3 linked regions of the Homo sapiens genome follow. The protein of the gene in region 2 interacts with the protein of the main gene of each other region in a biochemical or structural test. Each region holds a gene or a part of one and is shown on either strand. Other genes may lie near its edges.

What was found. The genes of interacting proteins can lie anywhere in the genome.
Region 1: the proteins of ITGB3 (region 2) and FGFR1 form a complex in vitro, tested with the Homo sapiens proteins (one study listed by BioGRID).
Region 3: the proteins of ITGB3 (region 2) and MIIP form a complex in vitro, tested with the Homo sapiens proteins (one study listed by BioGRID).

Annotation. Positions count from the first base shown.
Region 1 is NC_000008.11:38,410,643-38,416,662, reverse strand, and holds the end of FGFR1 (fibroblast growth factor receptor 1 isoform 1 precursor), read left to right. Parts: intron 1-602; coding exon 603-793; intron 794-1,761; coding exon 1,762-1,884; intron 1,885-2,033; coding exon 2,034-2,104; intron 2,105-2,373; coding exon 2,374-2,511; intron 2,512-2,639; coding exon 2,640-2,745; intron 2,746-2,858; coding exon 2,859-3,035; 3' UTR 3,036-4,067; coding exon of another isoform or gene 4,068-4,274; 3' UTR 4,275-5,520; downstream 5,521-6,020. UniProt on the Homo sapiens protein: Tyrosine-protein kinase that acts as a cell-surface receptor for fibroblast growth factors and plays an essential role in the regulation of embryonic development, cell proliferation, differentiation and migration.
Region 2 is NC_000017.11:47,256,806-47,263,832, reverse strand, and holds part of ITGB3 (integrin beta-3 precursor), read right to left. Parts: intron 1-7,027. UniProt on the Homo sapiens protein: Integrin alpha-V/beta-3 (ITGAV:ITGB3) is a receptor for cytotactin, fibronectin, laminin, matrix metalloproteinase-2, osteopontin, osteomodulin, prothrombin, thrombospondin, vitronectin and von Willebrand factor.
Region 3 is NC_000001.11:12,015,528-12,022,497, forward strand, and holds the start of MIIP (migration and invasion-inhibitory protein), read left to right. Parts: upstream 1-3,970; 5' UTR 3,971-4,025; exon of another isoform or gene 4,026-4,447; intron 4,448-6,117; 5' UTR 6,118-6,199; coding exon 6,200-6,313; intron 6,314-6,567; coding exon 6,568-6,915; intron 6,916-6,970.

The DNA of each region.
Region 1 (6,020 bases), on a different chromosome or scaffold from region 2:
GCCAACAGGTGAAACCCCATCTCTACTAAAAATACAAAAAGTAGCCGGGCGTGGTGGCGCATGCCTGTAATTCCAGCTACTCGGGAGGCTGTGGCAGGAGAATCGTTTGAACACGGGAGGCGGAGGTTGCGGTTAGCCGAGATCGCGCCATTGCACTCCAGCTTGGGCAACGAGCAAAACTCCATCTCAAAAAAAAAAAAAAAAAAAAAAAAAATTAGCCAGGCATTGTTCATGCCTGTAATCCCAGCTGCTTGGGAGGCTGAGGCAGGAGAATCACTTGAATCCAGAAGGCAGAGGTTGCAGTGAGCCGAAATTGCGCCACTGCACTCCAGCCTGGGCAACAGAGTGAGACTCCATCTCAAAATAAACAGACAAACTGGGGCTCTTACCCCAATGTTGCTCGGGAATTTTCTGGACTATGCTGGGAGTAATTATTTCTCTGATTTTTTTTGGGTAGTAGAATGGATTTCCCAGGTCCCCTAAGAGGAGGCAGGAGATGGGAGGTTGGCCGGGGTGTGCTGCTGGGGGTGGGGTTTCTTTGAGGTGAAGCCAAACCTGCTCACCTGCTGCTGGCCCCATGGCCTCTTCTCCTGTGCCTGCAGGTCCCTTGTATGTCATCGTGGAGTATGCCTCCAAGGGCAACCTGCGGGAGTACCTGCAGGCCCGGAGGCCCCCAGGGCTGGAATACTGCTACAACCCCAGCCACAACCCAGAGGAGCAGCTCTCCTCCAAGGACCTGGTGTCCTGCGCCTACCAGGTGGCCCGAGGCATGGAGTATCTGGCCTCCAAGAAGGTGTGGAACCTGAAGGCTCCCCTGGGTAATGCCAGGGTGGGAACAGAGCCCCCCTAGTCTTCCAGCCTGTGACTTATCATCTTGTGGTGGCGTTGTGGATGCACTGAGCACTGGCCCTGTGTGCCCTGTGTGTTGTCTTAGGCTCTCTGGGAACTGCAGAGTCAGGAGCACCAGTGTAGCCAGGTGGCCTTGGGGTCAGACTGATGCAGGGTCCGATCTGTGCACTGCCACTTTCTGCGTAGCCTCAGGCAGCTACTTAGCATCTTAAAATTCTTCAAATACAAAATAATAATAATATCAGCTGGGTGCAGTGGCCAAGGCGGGAGGATTGCTTGAGCTCAGGAGTGTGAGACCAGGTTGGGCAATATATTGAAACCCCGTCTTTAAAAAAAAAAAAAAAATTAAAAAATTAGCTGGGTGTGGTAGTGCGTGCCGATAGTCCCAGCTACTCGGGAGGCTGAGGTGGGAGGCTAGCTTGAGCCCAAGAGTTTGAGGCTGCACTGAGCCATGATCACACCACTGCACCCCAGCCGGGGCGACAGAGCAAGGCCCTGTCTCAAAAGAAAATAAAGTATAACAATACCTGTTGTAGAATTGTTATGAAGATAAAATGAAACTGTCTGTGAGTGTTGAGTGCAGTGTTTGGTGTGTAAGGGCTGGCCTGGTTTGAGCCCAGCCCCATGTGGACTTGCTGTGCTGGGAGGCAGGACCTAGGAGCATGCATCGCTGCAGACGCAGCAGAGGCATAAGGGGCCAGTCTTTGGGGAAGGAAGGGAGGAGCGCTTGCTGTGATGAGAAGCCTGGAGCTGGCAGAGAATGTTAGAAGAGGGAAAGCAAAGGTTCGGGGGGCAGAGCAGTGTGGCAGAAGTTCTATGAGACAAGTCGGCTAGTTGCATGGGTGGCGGCCGCCCAGAGCCTTCCAGCTCCCTCACCTCCCCGCCTCCCGCTCTCCCTTCCTCCTTCCTCAGTGCATACACCGAGACCTGGCAGCCAGGAATGTCCTGGTGACAGAGGACAATGTGATGAAGATAGCAGACTTTGGCCTCGCACGGGACATTCACCACATCGACTACTATAAAAAGACAACCAACGTGAGTGCCGACAAGGCCGCCCTGTGCTGGTGGTTTCATCTGAGAAGCAAGGAGTGGGGTGGGCTGAGAACCCACCCCCCAGTCCCTTCCCACCTGTGCCCTCATGGCCCTGCCTGGGGCCACTCCAACCTCCCCTGTGCTGCTTTCAGGGCCGACTGCCTGTGAAGTGGATGGCACCCGAGGCATTATTTGACCGGATCTACACCCACCAGAGTGATGTGTGAGTTTGTAATAGCAATTGCCAGGGAGGTGTGGGATAGAGAGCTTCTAGCACTGTAGAGTCCTGCTTTCTCCCTGGACTGAGGAGTCCTCTTTCTGCCCCAGAGAGAAAAACAAAACATTGTCTGTGGCCATTCCCTCTGCTCCAGATGTTGAAAGGCTGATCTGTTCTCCATGCTGTCTCCTGGCACTGCCCTGGGTAGAGGATTTGTGCTGGGGGAGGGGAGGCGGAGAAGCTCTAACACCCTGTGGCTCTCCGCCCATTTGCAGGTGGTCTTTCGGGGTGCTCCTGTGGGAGATCTTCACTCTGGGCGGCTCCCCATACCCCGGTGTGCCTGTGGAGGAACTTTTCAAGCTGCTGAAGGAGGGTCACCGCATGGACAAGCCCAGTAACTGCACCAACGAGCTGTAAGCCCGAGGAGATGTCGGAGGCCCTGAGCCAGGCCTTGGGGCAAGAGTGGGCTTGAGGGGCAGGGGGCTAGACTAGAGAGTATCCATCTCCAGGAGACGTCCCTGACCTTACAGTCCTGCCGCAGGTACATGATGATGCGGGACTGCTGGCATGCAGTGCCCTCACAGAGACCCACCTTCAAGCAGCTGGTGGAAGACCTGGACCGCATCGTGGCCTTGACCTCCAACCAGGTAAGGCTGCCCGTGCCAGAGCCAGAGCTCAGGCCGTCCCCACTGCGTGCACGCACCTCCCTGAGCAGGGAGGAGGGGCCCGGCCCATCGCTGCTTCCTCTCGCCCATCACAGGAGTACCTGGACCTGTCCATGCCCCTGGACCAGTACTCCCCCAGCTTTCCCGACACCCGGAGCTCTACGTGCTCCTCAGGGGAGGATTCCGTCTTCTCTCATGAGCCGCTGCCCGAGGAGCCCTGCCTGCCCCGACACCCAGCCCAGCTTGCCAATGGCGGACTCAAACGCCGCTGACTGCCACCCACACGCCCTCCCCAGACTCCACCGTCAGCTGTAACCCTCACCCACAGCCCCTGCTGGGCCCACCACCTGTCCGTCCCTGTCCCCTTTCCTGCTGGCAGGAGCCGGCTGCCTACCAGGGGCCTTCCTGTGTGGCCTGCCTTCACCCCACTCAGCTCACCTCTCCCTCCACCTCCTCTCCACCTGCTGGTGAGAGGTGCAAAGAGGCAGATCTTTGCTGCCAGCCACTTCATCCCCTCCCAGATGTTGGACCAACACCCCTCCCTGCCACCAGGCACTGCCTGGAGGGCAGGGAGTGGGAGCCAATGAACAGGCATGCAAGTGAGAGCTTCCTGAGCTTTCTCCTGTCGGTTTGGTCTGTTTTGCCTTCACCCATAAGCCCCTCGCACTCTGGTGGCAGGTGCCTTGTCCTCAGGGCTACAGCAGTAGGGAGGTCAGTGCTTCGTGCCTCGATTGAAGGTGACCTCTGCCCCAGATAGGTGGTGCCAGTGGCTTATTAATTCCGATACTAGTTTGCTTTGCTGACCAAATGCCTGGTACCAGAGGATGGTGAGGCGAAGGCCAGGTTGGGGGCAGTGTTGTGGCCCTGGGGCCCAGCCCCAAACTGGGGGCTCTGTATATAGCTATGAAGAAAACACAAAGTGTATAAATCTGAGTATATATTTACATGTCTTTTTAAAAGGGTCGTTACCAGAGATTTACCCATCGGGTAAGATGCTCCTGGTGGCTGGGAGGCATCAGTTGCTATATATTAAAAACAAAAAAGAAAAAAAAGGAAAATGTTTTTAAAAAGGTCATATATTTTTTGCTACTTTTGCTGTTTTATTTTTTTAAATTATGTTCTAAACCTATTTTCAGTTTAGGTCCCTCAATAAAAATTGCTGCTGCTTCATTTATCTATGGGCTGTATGAAAAGGGTGGGAATGTCCACTGGAAAGAAGGGACACCCACGGGCCCTGGGGCTAGGTCTGTCCCGAGGGCACCGCATGCTCCCGGCGCAGGTTCCTTGTAACCTCTTCTTCCTAGGTCCTGCACCCAGACCTCACGACGCACCTCCTGCCTCTCCGCTGCTTTTGGAAAGTCAGAAAAAGAAGATGTCTGCTTCGAGGGCAGGAACCCCATCCATGCAGTAGAGGCGCTGGGCAGAGAGTCAAGGCCCAGCAGCCATCGACCATGGATGGTTTCCTCCAAGGAAACCGGTGGGGTTGGGCTGGGGAGGGGGCACCTACCTAGGAATAGCCACGGGGTAGAGCTACAGTGATTAAGAGGAAAGCAAGGGCGCGGTTGCTCACGCCTGTAATCCCAGCACTTTGGGACACCGAGGTGGGCAGATCACTTCAGGTCAGGAGTTTGAGACCAGCCTGGCCAACTTAGTGAAACCCCATCTCTACTAAAAATGCAAAAATTATCCAGGCATGGTGGCACACGCCTGTAATCCCAGCTCCACAGGAGGCTGAGGCAGAATCCCTTGAAGCTGGGAGGCGGAGGTTGCAGTGAGCCGAGATTGCGCCATTGCACTCCAGCCTGGGCAACAGAGAAAACAAAAAGGAAAACAAATGATGAAGGTCTGCAGAAACTGAAACCCAGACATGTGTCTGCCCCCTCTATGTGGGCATGGTTTTGCCAGTGCTTCTAAGTGCAGGAGAACATGTCACCTGAGGCTAGTTTTGCATTCAGGTCCCTGGCTTCGTTTCTTGTTGGTATGCCTCCCCAGATCGTCCTTCCTGTATCCATGTGACCAGACTGTATTTGTTGGGACTGTCGCAGATCTTGGCTTCTTACAGTTCTTCCTGTCCAAACTCCATCCTGTCCCTCAGGAACGGGGGGAAAATTCTCCGAATGTTTTTGGTTTTTTGGCTGCTTGGAATTTACTTCTGCCACCTGCTGGTCATCACTGTCCTCACTAAGTGGATTCTGGCTCCCCCGTACCTCATGGCTCAAACTACCACTCCTCAGTCGCTATATTAAAGCTTATATTTTGCTGGATTACTGCTAAATACAAAAGAAAGTTCAATATGTTTTCATTTCTGTAGGGAAAATGGGATTGCTGCTTTAAATTTCTGAGCTAGGGATTTTTTGGCAGCTGCAGTGTTGGCGACTATTGTAAAATTCTCTTTGTTTCTCTCTGTAAATAGCACCTGCTAACATTACAATTTGTATTTATGTTTAAAGAAGGCATCATTTGGTGAACAGAACTAGGAAATGAATTTTTAGCTCTTAAAAGCATTTGCTTTGAGACCGCACAGGAGTGTCTTTCCTTGTAAAACAGTGATGATAATTTCTGCCTTGGCCCTACCTTGAAGCAATGTTGTGTGAAGGGATGAAGAATCTAAAAGTCTTCATAAGTCCTTGGGAGAGGTGCTAGAAAAATATAAGGCACTATCATAATTACAGTGATGTCCTTGCTGTTACTACTCAAATCACCCACAAATTTCCCCAAAGACTGCGCTAGCTGTCAAATAAAAGACAGTGAAATTGACCTGAGAGAAAATGAAATGGCCGTTTTACTTAGAGGACCAAATTGGGTCTCCTGAGGAAAGGAATCCAGTTTATCTAATGAAGATGTTGTGCCATGAAGGCACTGAGTCTGTCTGGTTTCCTGAGGGTTAAAAGATTAGGGCTGGGATCACCACAGCATTAATCAATACTGCCTTTCCGTCTCTTCTAATTGCCATAGGCTGGAGATCATCGGTCCCTTGGCCCTGCTAATGTAATGTATTGATCTCAGGTAAGTAAGATTGAGCATCAAATGAGGCAAGAAATCTGTCTCATTGTTAATGAGGTTGCTGTGCTTATTCGCCACCACTGGGTGGAGCCAGCGAGCTGAAGTTTCAGTTGGCATTAGGTGAAGCACCAGTCCGCTCTCAAGTCACATTGGTCCAACTACTACCTGCTAGTGTGTGCTGGTGGTGAGTGGGAAATCTTTAGCCTAGATTTGGCATTACAGAAAAACTGGGCAGCACTGATGTGGCTCGTTTT
Region 2 (7,027 bases):
TCCTTTCATTGACCCTTCATGCTGTAAGAAAATAAAGCAGGATAGGCCGGGCATGGTGGCTAACACTGTAATCTGAGCACTGTGGGAGGCCAAGGCGGGTAGATCACCTGAGGTCAGGAGTTCAAGACCAGCCTGGCCAACATGGCGAAATCCAGTCTTTACTAAAACTAGAAAAATTAGCTGGGCATGGTGGCACGCACCTGTAATCCCAGCTACTTGGGAGGCTGAGGCAGGAGAATTGCTTGAACATGGGAGGCGGAGTTTGCAGTGAGCCAAGATCGTGCCACTGCACTCCAGCCTGTGTGATGGAGTGAGACTCTGCCTCAAAGGGAAAAGAAAGGGTGGGGGTGGGGGGGGCGGGGAATAGCAAGCAATGAGGGAAGGAGTCTCCTTTAAAGCATGTGGTCAGGAAAGGTCTCTCTGTGGAGCTGACACTTCAAGATGATGTTAATGGGAAGATCTAGGGCAGGTCCTGTCCTTGTAAATGAAGCCACATTATGTCTGGTTATCATCTCCAATGAGGTTAATTAGGTCGCCATGTGCTGAAGACTGCATAAAGCCCATTCCAGGGACAGAGTCCTGTCTTCTCTAAGGTTGTGGTCTAAAATTAACACCCAGCTCCTGAGAAATGTGGTAAGGCAGGAGCAGTAAAACAACAGATGGATATGGCAGAAAAAGCATGCAAAGCAGCAGGAAACCTCACGTCTAAAGCCATCTTTGCCCTTCCTCTGGCCGTATGACCTCAAGTACATCCCTTCATCTCTCTGGTGCTCTCTCCAAGGCCCAGTGCCTCTTTGAGTCTATGTCACATTCATAGTCGAGAAGTGATAACTGCTCTGTAGTATTTAACGGGTCTAACCAGCCACATCGGCCAAGCACCGGAGACTCCAAACAGCTGCTTCCTTTCCCCAGTGCTCCCGAGTTGTTAGGATTAAATGACATAACACGTATGAAAGAACCCTCTATAGTGGATGCTCAATAAATGTTCATTTCCTTCCCCCTTACTTTCACTCTAGTCACTTCCTACACCAGGAATCCCCATCCCCTCGCCTCCACCTCAGGGTCAGACGTGAAAGGGCCCTTTGTCTCTAACAGGATATAGTGAAGAAATCACTCTGGGCAGGAGACAAGAGTCCCCAGGGAGAGACCCAACCAATGCCACTGAGCCAGTTGTATGATCTTGGACAAGTCACTTCACTTCTCAGGAACTCCCTTTTTGCTTTTTTGTAAAACAAACAGGTGTCAAATTTGATGATCTTCAAGGTGCTGCCAGTCCTGGAAGTATCCACTCTTCCAGCCAGAAAACATCAACAGGGGGACTCATACCCTAGGAAGCCTAGCAACCCAAGGCATGAGAACCCTCAAACAAGGCACAAGTGGCCATTTCTTCCTGATGGCCTGATATTTGACTCAAACGCTGCATCTCAAGAGTTCTGGAAATTTTTATTAGCATCGACCCCACCTCATTCAGTATACAGAAGAAGCAGGTCTGTACCAAGCTGTCCGAGGCTCAGCCCAGGGGTGCCCTATTGGTGACCTCCTTGGCATCCTGCTGTCCAGTTCTGCAGCCTTCCTCCCCCAGCTCATGTGTTATGGGTGTGGACAGCAGGCCGCGGTGCTAACACCAGTCCTTACTGCCAGCCTGTCTTGGTAGGAAAGCAAACTGGTTCAACCGTTTGGGAGGACAAATTGACAACACCTACTAAAATTTAAATTTAAAATACGCATGCCCTTCGACCCACCAACTTTCATTCAAGAAATTAAGTCTGTAGAAACACTTGAACAAAGGTGCATAATAAATGAATAAGGATATCCCCTGCAGCTTTATTTGTAGTAGCAAATAATTGGGAATGATCCCAATGTCTGCCAACAGGGAATTGGTTAAGTAAATTCTGATATATCCATATAACAAAGAGTATGCCTTATGGCTAGAATTATAGCTCTTGGGATAAATAATGGAAAGCCATAAACTGACATAAAAAGATGCCTAGAGTATATTATTAAGAGACAATGGGCCAGGTGCGGTGGCTTATGCGTGTAATCCCAGCACTTTGGGAGGCCGAGGCGGGTGGATCACCTGTGGTTAGGAGTTCAAAACCAGCCTGGCCAACATGGCCAAACCCTGTCTCTATCAAAAACACAAAAATTAGCTGGGCGTGGTGGCAAATGCCTGTGATCCCAGCTACTCGGGAATCTGAGGCAGGAGAATTGCTTGAACCCAGGAGGCGGAGGTTGCAGTGAGCTGGGATCACACAACTGCACTCCAGCCTGGGCGACAGAGTGAGACTCCATCTCAAAAAAAAAAAAAAAAAAGACAATGATCCTATTATTGATTATCCTATTTGAGAAATAACAATAATGATAAATAATTATATATGTTGACAAATACATAGAAAAAAACTCTGCAGTAACTATCAACAGTGGTTATCTTTAAGGACAAGACTACAAGGAACTGGTACTGGTACTTTCTGCATTATATTTCTGAGCTGCCTTTTTTTAAATAATAAGCTTAATTACTTTTATAAGCTAAAAGAAAATTAAAGCTAATTTGAAATGTCCTCTGTTCTGCCTCCCTGTCGACATTTGCATTTATTTAAATGTAGGCTCCCCAGAGTCTGCTGGGCTTTCCACAAACTGCACCTTCAGCATCAAAACCTCTTGGAATGGCAAACTCAGCAGGAACACAGAAATGAGCTTTGGGGTATGGTTTGCATGAGGAGATGCTGGTCAAGGGATATAAATTTTCAGTTAGACAAGAGGAATAAGTTCAAGAGATCCACTGTACAACATGGTGACTATAGTTAATAACCGTATGTCATCTACCTGAAAATTGCTGGGAGGAGATTTTTAAGTGTTCTCACCACAAATAAATCAGAAGTATGTATGTGAGGTAATGCATATGTTATTTAACTTCATTTAACCATTCCACAATGCGCACATATTTCAAGACATCATGTTGTACATCATAAATATACATAATTTTTATTTGTCAATTTCAAACAATAATAATAATAAAAGAGAATGGAAAAAAAAAAAGGAATAAACTTTGTCAGGCCCACTCTCACAGCCTTCAAGAACTGCCCAGGGCAGCATGGTCTGTTCTCAACTTGTGGAAGTCCCAGAAAGGAAACACCACCCTCCCCTCCACTGGGGATTGGTCAAACATGCTCCTTGCAGGCGGCTCCAGCAAAGGCTCAACCTGGAGTTCAACACGTGCGATGGCTAAAGTTGGGGTCTGGAGCCATCAGTGGATCTCACAGACCCAGGTTTCTCTATCCAAAATTTCCATTAGCAAAGAGATGTAGGGTTGACTACAGGGACTTTTTAAGTGGCTACTGAATATGTCTTTTGCCAAACTTCTGGAGCTCTCTTCTAGTGCAAAGTTTTTCAAGCTTGATTTTAACAGCAGGATCTTCTTTTTTTCCCAAAGAAATCCTTACATGAACTCCAAATTGTTAATTAGTTAAAGGAGTTCCAGTTGAAGGTGGTGGGGAAGGGGCAGGAGCAAATTGAAGTATTTCCCTTCATCTTCTCTGTCCCACTTTGCAGCCCCTGGGACACCAAGAGACTGATGCCTAAAGGTAAAGTCACTTGTTCAAAGTCACCCAGCAAGCTGATGAAAAAGCCTGCAGAACTGTGAATCGAATGTAGGTTTCTTAATTCCAGATACGTTGTTCTTTCCACACTGAGCTTTTTTCTATATAAAAGGAAGTACTATATATCATGGGTTTAAGTAAAGGAATACACACACACACACAAATAAACATAAATGCGAGGGGAAATGTCTAAACAGAACACACCACCTGATTAATATGAACATTATAGGGGAATAGAATTAGAAGGGAACCAGCAATTTTAACGACTGACAATGATCCTATGTGGATGAACCTATTTGAGAAATAACAATATTTGTTTTGTTTTGTTCTGTTTTTTGAGACAGAGTTTTGCTCTTGTTGCTCAGGCTGGAGTGCAATGGCACAATCTCGGCTCACTGCAACCTCTGCCTCCTGGGTTCAAGCGATTCTCCTGCCTCAGCCTCCCGAGTAGCTGGGATTACAGACGCATGCCACCATGCCCAGCTGATTTTGTATTTTTAGTAGAGACAGGGTTTCTCCATGTTGGTCAGGCTGGTCTTGAACTCCTGACCTCAGGTGATCCGCCCGCCTCGGCCTCCCAAAGTGCTGGGATTACAGGCATGAGCCACCGCGCCCAGCCAAGAAATAACAATATTTGTTATTTTGACTTTTTTAAAATGTGTATCACCTTGTTCTTTTTCTTTCTCTCCTTGAATATTTAAACATCTTCACTAACTGAACTAAGAAATTGAACTAACTCAACTATAAAACCGAGAGAGGGGGGTAAGTAAATAGTCTTTTCATGGGAACATGACAGAAAAACAGAAATAAGACATCTAGTGTTAGATCTAGTGTTAGAATTTGTCTAGCAAGCTTTCTGGTTTTGGCCAAAAAGCCACCCACCCACCCACCCTCCCAAAAAAAAGGAAAAAAAAAAAGTCAAGTGGGTTGTTTTTTCAGAGATGCTACCAAAAATGTAAAAAGGTAGAATAGCCCCCAGGTTTACTTAACAACTTCTGACTCCAAGCATCATGACATACAATATTTGGCCACAAAATATCTGTTACTCCTATGAGCAAGAATAATAAGTGTTGGTTGCTACAGAATCCTCTCTAGTATCCTGAAGTCTTTAACTACTTAGCACATGGAAAATCTAATGACTTATATATAGCTAAATACATCTATCCAATTATAAAATTTAGAAGCTGAAAGCTGGGGAGCACCTCCAAAGTTTAACGGATCCAGTCCCACTGCTTTCAGGGTAACTGTTCCAACACGGAGGATGACGGAGTGGCCTCAGACAATGTCTTAGAGTTACTGATAGATGCAGCATCATAGATTAACCCCAAATGTATTGTGCTAAGTGAAAGAAGCCAGACTGAAAGTCTATACACTGCATGCTTTCATTTATATGACATTTTGTAAAACATAGAACTGCAGGGACAGGAAATAGATCAGCAGTTGCAACCGACGAGGGTTGAGGGTAGGGTATCGATTACAAAAGAGCTGGGGGGGCACCTGGCACAGTAGCTCACGCCTGTAATCCCAACACTTTGGGAGGCCGAGGTGGGCAGATTGCCTGAGCTCAGAAGTTCGAGACCAGCCTGGGCAATATGGTGAGACCCTGCCTCTAGAAAGAAAAAGAAGGGAAAAAAAGAGCTTGGGGGAATTTTAGGGGATGATGGAAAAATTCTGTATCTTGATGATGGCAATGGTTACTTGACTATATGCATTTGTCAAAATTCATAGAACTGTATGCACTAAAAAGGGTGAATTTTACTGTACATAAATTATACCTGAATTATCTAACAAAAAAAAAAAAAGAGTGTTTTTGGTGAGACTGTGTGTGTGGACAGAAAGGCAGATGCTATCACTTTTTTGCTGGAGAGTCTCACGTTTCAATAAATGCCAGCAGTTCCCACACGGGGAATAGGCAGTTCCCCTAAACAGAGTCATTTCCCTGCTCCCACCTTCATTTCCACTAGTGGCCTGAGCTCCATCAGGCACAATGAAGGTCCCACTCAGGAAGGGCCAAGGTTCAGGAAGAGGGAGCAGAGGCGATGGGGTGGAGCAGCCCACTCTGTGGGCAGCAGAGAGGGCTGGGTAAAACGAAGCGGTTCATCCCTGAAGCTGCTCAGTCACTCCCTCGGTTAATTATCTGTCTTCTGATTCATGAGTTGTGGTTCCTGTGGGCATGCTTCCTGGAGATTTCTGCCAACAAGGGAAGAAGGGTTCTTGGGACTGGGAGGGGATGATAACCTCAGATCCCAAGTAGGGTGGGGAGCTTTAGAGGAGAAATTTCGATCAGGAAATTCTAAAGTCATAGCCAGACTCCCCCTCCTCACTGTGGTGTGCTTGCCCCATCTTATGGTCTTCCCAGGAGACCTCTGTCACTCCTCACCCTTGCCCCAACACCCACACGTCCAAGGGGGAGAAAGGAGAATGTTGCCCTTCTAACGGCTCCTCCCAGGAGGGAAAAAAAGGCAGACACTTTACAGAGGATCCCTTGAGTTTTTCACACTCTCAGATCACAGGTCTAAATGGTGCAACAGTGCAGCGGCCCAAATGCCCAAAGAATTCATGATCTTGGCTATGTTTTCATACCCTCCAGATTATCCAAACGGAGCACTTGAGGATCTTGTATGAATGAGTGCAAATATTCAAATATTGGGTTTCTTAAAGGGAGGCACATCATCTATAGATGCCTTTACATAGCATTCCACAGATATTTGTTTTGCTGCCTATGTGCCAGGCAGTGGGCATAGAGTATTGAACAAAATAGACATGTCCCTCTTCTCATGGAACTTGAAGTCTTATAGATCCTTTTATCTTCCTCTTTTTTCAGATACAGGGCTTGAGGTTTTCTTATGGGTAAAGCAAATGTATAAGCCTTTTTCCTTCTTGGCTTCTTCTGTGGATTCTTGCCGGGTTAGAGTAGCTGAGATATGCCAAACCAGCAATGAGGAACGAGTTGAAATAAGAGGGACCCCCTCTCACATATGTGGGGGAAAGGGACCCCATCAGTTTCATTCTGGAAGCCTGCATAGCGCATATGCATGAAGTAGTAACAGCTTTTGCCTCCAATACATGGCAGATAGCATGGATAGGAAGAATAATGACAATAGTAGTTGTCATTCATTAAACACTTATTTTGTGCCTCTGTTTCATTTAATCAGCATAATCATAGGCATTGTTTCCTCTGCCTTACAAATGAGGAAACTGAGGACTCAAGAGATTAGGTAACTTATTTAAGGCCACACAGCCTACAGGAGACAAAGTCAAGAATCAAACCCACATCTTACTGGCTTTAAACCATAGCCCTCCCTTTCCGAAGCCAACAAGCCTTCCTGCTGTGTTTCTCCAGGACCTGAGGATACCTGCAGAGGGCTTCGATTGGAGAGCTTCTAGGATATAAACTCCAGAAGAGAAATAAGCACCTCAGCTTAGACCTA
Region 3 (6,970 bases), on a different chromosome or scaffold from region 2:
TCGCTAAACTCCCTAACATCAGGAGCCATCAGGCAAATTATCTCAAGTCTTGATTTACAAACCAAACCCTTATGCCTCTGATTACACAGGGGACCGGTCTGACAAACTTTTTTTTTTTTTTTGAGGTAGGTTTTTGTTGGCTGGAGTGCAGTGGCGCAATCACGGCTCACTGCAGACTTGACCTCCCAGACTCAAGTGATCCTCTCACCTTAGCCTCCCGAATAGCTGGGATTAAAAGTGTGCGCCACCATGCCCGGATAATTTTTTGTTTTTTTGTAGAGACGAGGGATCTCACTATGTTACTCAGGCTGGTTTCGAACTCCTGATCTCAAATGATCCTCACACCTTGGCCTCCCAAAGTGCTGGGATTATAGGTGTGAGCCACCATGTCTGGACACAAATATTCTTTTTCTTTTTTTAATTTAATTTTTCAAATAGAGAATGTATGTTGGCTGGGCACAGTGCCTCATGCCTGTAATCCCAGCACTTTGGGAGGCTGAGGTGAGAGGATCGCTTGAATTCATGAGTTTGAGACCAGCCTGGGCAATCTGGCAAAACCCTGTCTCTACAAAAAATACAAAAATTAGCCCAGCATGGTGGTGTGCACTGGTAGTCCCAGCTATTCCGGGGGCTGAGGTAGGAGAATCACTTGAACCCAGGAGGTGGAGGCTGCAGTGAGCCGAGATTGCATCACTGCACTCCAACCTAGGCAACAGAATGAGACCCCGTCTCAAAAAAAAAAAAAAAAAATAGATGGGATCTTACTGTGTTGCCCAGGCTGGCCTCTAATTCCCAAGCTCAAGTGATCCTCCTGCCCCAGCCTCCCAGAGTGCCGGAACTACAGGCATGAGCCATCACACCCAGCCAATAAACATTCTTTTCTGATAAGCAACTGCAGAACTTAAGCCAGTTTCAGCCAGCTTACAGAAGCTGTGAACAACCTGTTTAGCCAATGCACATGAGCTCACCTCCTCTCATAAATATGTATACAGCTTTTCCCTCAAACCTGCTAAATATGTATGAATATGGGCCCTGTGAGGCATAAAACCCAACCTGTCCTTTCTCTCTTGGAAGAGAGCACCTTCAGTGCATGCTGCAAACCATCTCTTCCTGGTTTGCAAACAAGTATCAACAATAAAGTGCTCCTTTCTACTATTTAGCCACCCTGGTGATCTTCTAGACAACATTATGCGTATTTCTGCTAGGAACATTAGTGTTCAAATCTCTGTGTAGGCAGATGTTTTCATTTTTTGTAGGTAGATATCTCAGGCTGGACTTGCTGGGCCATATGGTAAATTTATGTTTAACTTCTACAGATTTTGTGAAGTGGTTATACTGTCTTATATCCCCACCAGTAGTGAATGTGGGTTCATATATATATATAGTTTTTTTTTTTTTTTTTTTTGAGACAGTCTTACTCTGTCACCCAGGCTGGAGTGCCGTGGCACAATCGCGGCTCACTGCAACCTCCGCCTCCCAGGTTCAAGCCATTCTCCTGCCTCAGCCTCTCGAGTAGCTGGGATTACAGGTGCCCACCACCACACCCGGCTAATTTTTTTCTATTTTTAATAGAGACGGGGTTTCACCATGTTAGCCAGGCTGGTTTCAAATTCCTGACCTCAACTGATCCGCCCGCCTTGGCCTCCCAAAGTGCTGGGATTACAGGCCTGAGACGTCGTGCCCGGCCTCATTTCATTTTTTAGAGCATCACAAACTACCTCTCCAGCTCATCTTGCTAGAGTTACTGCATAATCCATGCATTCCTGCCAAGGATCAGCCATCTTCTTGAGTCGGAGGGCTTCCTGCTAGCTCGGTGCCTGGTGTTATCACCCTCGGCTCTTCTGGAGGTAGAGGGGCTACCTATCTTCTTTTCATTCTTTTTTTTTTTTTTTTTTAATTTGAGACAGAGTTTCACTCTTGTTGCCCAGGCTGGAGTGCAATGGTGCGATTTTGGCTCACCACGACCTCCGCCTCCCGGGTTCAAGCGATTCTCCTGCCTCAGCCTCCCGAGCAGCTGGGATTACAGGTATGCGCCACCATGCCCGGCTAATTTTGTATTTTTAGTAGAGACGGGGTTTCTCCATGTTGGTCAGGCTGGTCTGGAACTCCCGACCTCAGGTGATCCGCCTGCCTGGACCTCCCAAAGTGCTGGGATTACAGACGTAAGCCACCGCGCCCAGCCAATTTTTGTATTTTTAGTAGAGACGGGGTTTCGCCATGTTGCCCAAGCTGATCTTGAACTCCTGACCTCAGGTGATCCACCCGCCTCGGCCTCCCAAAGTGCTGGGATTACAGGCGTGGGCCACTGCGCCCGGCCCCAGTTTTTCTAAGTTATATAGTTTAGGTTTCACAACTAGATCTATGATCCATTCTAGGTTAATTTTTGCATATGGGTTTCTTTTTTTTTTTTTTAGGATGAGTGTGTGGATATCCAATTATACCTACAACATTTGTTGAAGACACCATCTCTTCTTGTTTTCCCAAGTTTCCACACACATTATTGATAAAATAAATTTTTTTGGGGGGGGTGCTGGGTGTCGCTGGGCTGTAACTCCTTACCTCAAGCCATCTGCCCACCTCGGCATCCCAAAGCGCTGGGATTACAGGCGTGAGCCACCGCCCCGGGCCGAAGGCATTATCCTTTCTCCACTGAATTGCACTTTCATTTTTGTCAAAAATTAATTGCTCACATATCGGAACTCTATTCTGTTGCATTGATCCATTTGTCTACCTGGACGCCAATACCACACTTTCTTTCTTTTTTAAATTAATTTATTTATTGAGACAGGGTCTCTCAGTCAGGGTGGAGTGCAGTGGTGCAATCAAAGCTCACCACAGCCTCAGCCTCTTGGACTCAGGTGATCCTCCCATCTCAGCCTCCCGAGTAGCTGGACTACAGGTACGTGCCTGGCTCATTTTTTGTAGAGACGGGGTTTTGCCATGTTGCCCAGGCTGGGTATCTTTTTTTTTTTTTTCTTTTTTGAGATGGAGTCTTGCGTCTTGCTCTGTCATCCAGGCTGGAGTGCAGTGGCGCGATCTCGGTTCACTGCAATCTCTGCCTCCCTAGTAGCTGGGTTCAAGCGATTCTCCTGCCTCAGCCTCCCTAGTAGCTGGGATTACAGGCGCCGGCCACCTCGCCCGGCTAATTTTTGTATTTTTAGGTTTACTGGCGTGAGCAACCGCGGCCGGCCCCAATACTACACTTTCTTGTTTACTGTGTAGTCCTTATCTTCTGGCGCAAAGCGGGCACTCGCTAAAAACCTGAATGAAAGTATAAAGCAGGCCGGGCGCAGTGGCTCATGCCTGTAATCCCAGCATTTTGGGAGGCCGGGGCGGGCGGATCACGAGGTCAGGAGTTCGAGACCAGCCTGGCCAACATAGTGAAACCCTGTCTCTACTAAAAATACAAAAAAAAAAAAAAAAAAAAAAAAAAAAAAAAAAAAAGCCGGGCATGGTGGCGCTCGCCTGTAGTCCCAGCTACTCGGGAGGCTGAGGCAGGAGAATCAATCGCTTGAACTCGGGAGGCAGAGATTGTGGTGAGCCGAGATCGCGCCACTGCACTCCAGCCTGGGCAACAGAGTGAGACTCCGTCTCCAAAAAAAAAAAAAAAAAGAAAAGTATGAAACGATGAGTACAATGAGTAGCCAGCCGCCTGCCCCACCTACCCCGCCGCTCCGGACTGCCGCCTGCGCCGAGCCTAGGCCGCCCAGCCTGACTGAAACTGCCGCTGCTGAACTCAGCGTATCCAGTCCCGCAGCTGACCAATCGGAGCTCGCCCTTCCGGGGCCCGCCCCATTCCAGGAATCGACCTCCGCACCGGCCTCGAAAATTGACCAATCGGTTGTGTAGCTCCGCTCTTAGTCCCGCCCCCACGCTGAAACTGACACTTCGGATCGCCGAGTAACGCTCACCAGACGTCCCGGCCCTGCCCCTCACCTGACCAATCAAGACGGCCGGCCGAGGCCCCTGGAACGGCTCAGGCGGCTGCGGCTGCTACGGCGGCGCATGCTAGGGGATTCTGCCGGGTGAGTGCTGGGCGGCAGGACTGGGGTGGGGCGGAAGGGCTCGGCAGGAGGCCCCACGTGCATTCCCGCGAGGGGCTCGGGGGCCGCAGTGGAAAAGAAGGGTAGGCTGCATCTGCCTCTGCGGGGGTCCCGCCTCGGCGTCCGCCCGCTCGCCCTCTGTTACTTCTGCGGCCCCGGTGTTTCTGGAGCGTCGCTTTCCCGGTGTCTCCGCTCAGCTTTTCCCTTTCCAAAGCGCGGCCGGGGCCAGGGGAGGGCAAGGCCTGCTGTGCCCTTTGACCCCGTGCGAAAACGGCGACCCTCTGACTATAGGGGTGTGGCCCAGAGCCACTTGGCCAGTTAGGGGTGGGGGCCGGGATCTTTGTCCTGCGGATCAAACAGTTGGCCCCTCTGGACTGCATCTCCGTGCCCCCCGGCCCTGCGGGGTAATATACGTGTGTGGGGGAGGTTCCGGGGTAGTCGGCTACTCTGTGCTCCAGACCTTGCACCCGATCCTGAGGATCCTTGGAGGTGGGGGGCAAGGGCTGGGAGGAGGAGGCGGAGTTTTCCCAGGCTCCCCCACACTTCCAGGGAAAGGCTTTCCAAGAACCCTGAACTCATGGACCCTGGAGTCAAATTTTGGTTCAGATCTAGCCTCTTGCTAGCTGTGTGACTTGGGGCAAGTTGCTTAACTTCCCTGAGCTTTGGTTTCTTCATATGTAAAAAGAAAGTGAAGGAGGAAGGGAGGGCAGGAAAGGAGGAAGAATCCCTTTTGAAGCCTGATTTGTGTTGGACTCACCAGTTATAAAGCAAGCTTGTCCAAACCACTGCCCAGGAGGCGGAGGTTGCAGTGAGCCAAGAAAAAAAGGAAGCATGCCCTTGCCCCAGCCATTTTGGTAATAATAGACGTTTATTGAATGCTTACTGTATACCACTGTAAGCACTGTATTAAGTAAGCACTGTACTGAGTGCTTTGTTTTTTGTATTTTGTGTGTGTGTGTGACAGTCTTGCTCTGTCACCCAGGCTGGAGTGCAGTAGTGTGATCTCCACTCACTACAACCTCCGCCTCCCAGGTTCAAGCGATTCTCCTGCCTCAGCAGCCTCCTGAGTAGCTGGGATTACTGGCGCCCACCACCACACCCGGCTAATTGTTTGTTGTTGTTGCTGTTTTTGAGACGGAGTCTCACCCTGTCGCCCAGGCTGGAGCGCAATGGTGCGATCTCGGCTCACCGCAACCTCTGCCTCCCGGGTTCAGGTGATTCTCCTGCCTCAGCCTCCCGAGTAGCTGGGATTACAGGCGCGTGCCACCACGCCCGGCTAATTTTTGCATTTTTAGTAGCGACGAGGTCTCTCGCCACGTTGGCTAGGCTCATCTCAAACTCCTGACCTCAGGTGATCCTCCTGCCTCAGCCTCCCAAAGTGCTGGGATTACAGACGTGAGCCACTTGGCCTGTTTTTTGTTTTTTTTACAGTGATGCAACCATGGCTCACTGCAGCCTGGGTCTCCTGGGCTAAAGCTATCCTCCTGAGTAGCTGGGGCCACAGACAAGTGCCACCATGGCCAGCTAATTAAATTTTTTTTTGGCCAGGCACTGTAGCTCATGCCTGTAATCCCAGCACTTTGGGAGACCGAGGCAGGCGGATCACAAGGTCATGAGATCGAGACCATCCTGGCTAACACGGTGAAACCCCGTCTCTACTAAAAATACAAAAAATTAGCTGGGCGTGGTGGCAGGCGCCTGTAGTCCCAGCTACTCAGGAGGCTGAGGCAGGAGAATGGCGTGAACCCGGGAGGCGGAGCTTGCAGTGAGCCGAGATTGCGCCACTGCACTCCAGCCTGGGCGACAGAGCAAGACTCCATCTCAAAAAAAAAAAACAAAAAAACAAAACAAAAAAAAATGTTTCTACAAATGTTGTCCAGGCTTAACATGCTTTCTTTAATTCTAACAACAATCGTATGAGGTAGATACTGTTGTCGTCCAGCAGATGAGGAAACTGAGGCACAGAGAAGTTAAATAACTTGCCTGAGGCAGTACAGTTAAAGAGTGTCGAATGGGGGTCTCTGGCACCACAGGGCACCCTACTGAGCCCCGTGTCCTGCTGTCTTGACTTCAGGTAGAAGAGCTGGGCCTGGAACCCAGCCCTGAGGACATCCTGCGGCCCAGGGGCAAGTGACACCTGCTGAGAGAGGCCCAGGATGGTGGAGGCTGAGGAACTGGCACAGCTGCGGCTGCTCAATCTGGAGCTCCTGAGGCAGCTGTGGGTGGGGCAGGATGCTGTGCGGCGGTCAGTGGCCAGGGCAGCCTCGGAGGTGCGTGCCCGCCTTGGGAACCCCAGAGGAAGGGGCTACCTGACCTTCAGGCCAGCATCCAGGCTTCTGGGCTCATCTTGTTCAATACACCCATTTTACTGATGATGGGACATTGAGGGCTGGGGAGGGAAGAGACTGGCCTTGGTCACTGCTGAGGCCGGAGCAGGATGAGGATGCTTGCCTTGGTGCCTGGCGTAGGCCCGGTGGGTAGGTTCTGGCAGCCACTCCCTGGGTGACCCGGCCCCTCTCTCCAGTCAAGCCTGGAATCCAGCAGCAGCTACAACTCAGAGACTCCATCGACCCCAGAGACGTCCTCAACTTCCTTGAGCACCTCCTGCCCACGGGGCCGGTCCTCCGTGTGGGGCCCACCAGATGCCTGTCGAGGGGACCTCCGTGATGTGGCCAGATCGGGGGTGGCCTCTCTCCCACCTGCCAAATGCCAGCACCAGGAGTCCCTGGGCCGACCGAGACCCCACTCAGCACCCTCGCTGGGCACCTCAAGCCTGAGGGACCCAGAGCCCTCAGGGAGGCTGGGTGATCCAGGACCCCAGGAGGCACAGACCCCGAGGTCCATCCTGGCTCAACAGAGCAAGCTGTCCAAGGTAACGTGGGAGAGCGGGACATCTGCTGATGGGAGGAGCTTCCTTGGGCCTCAGT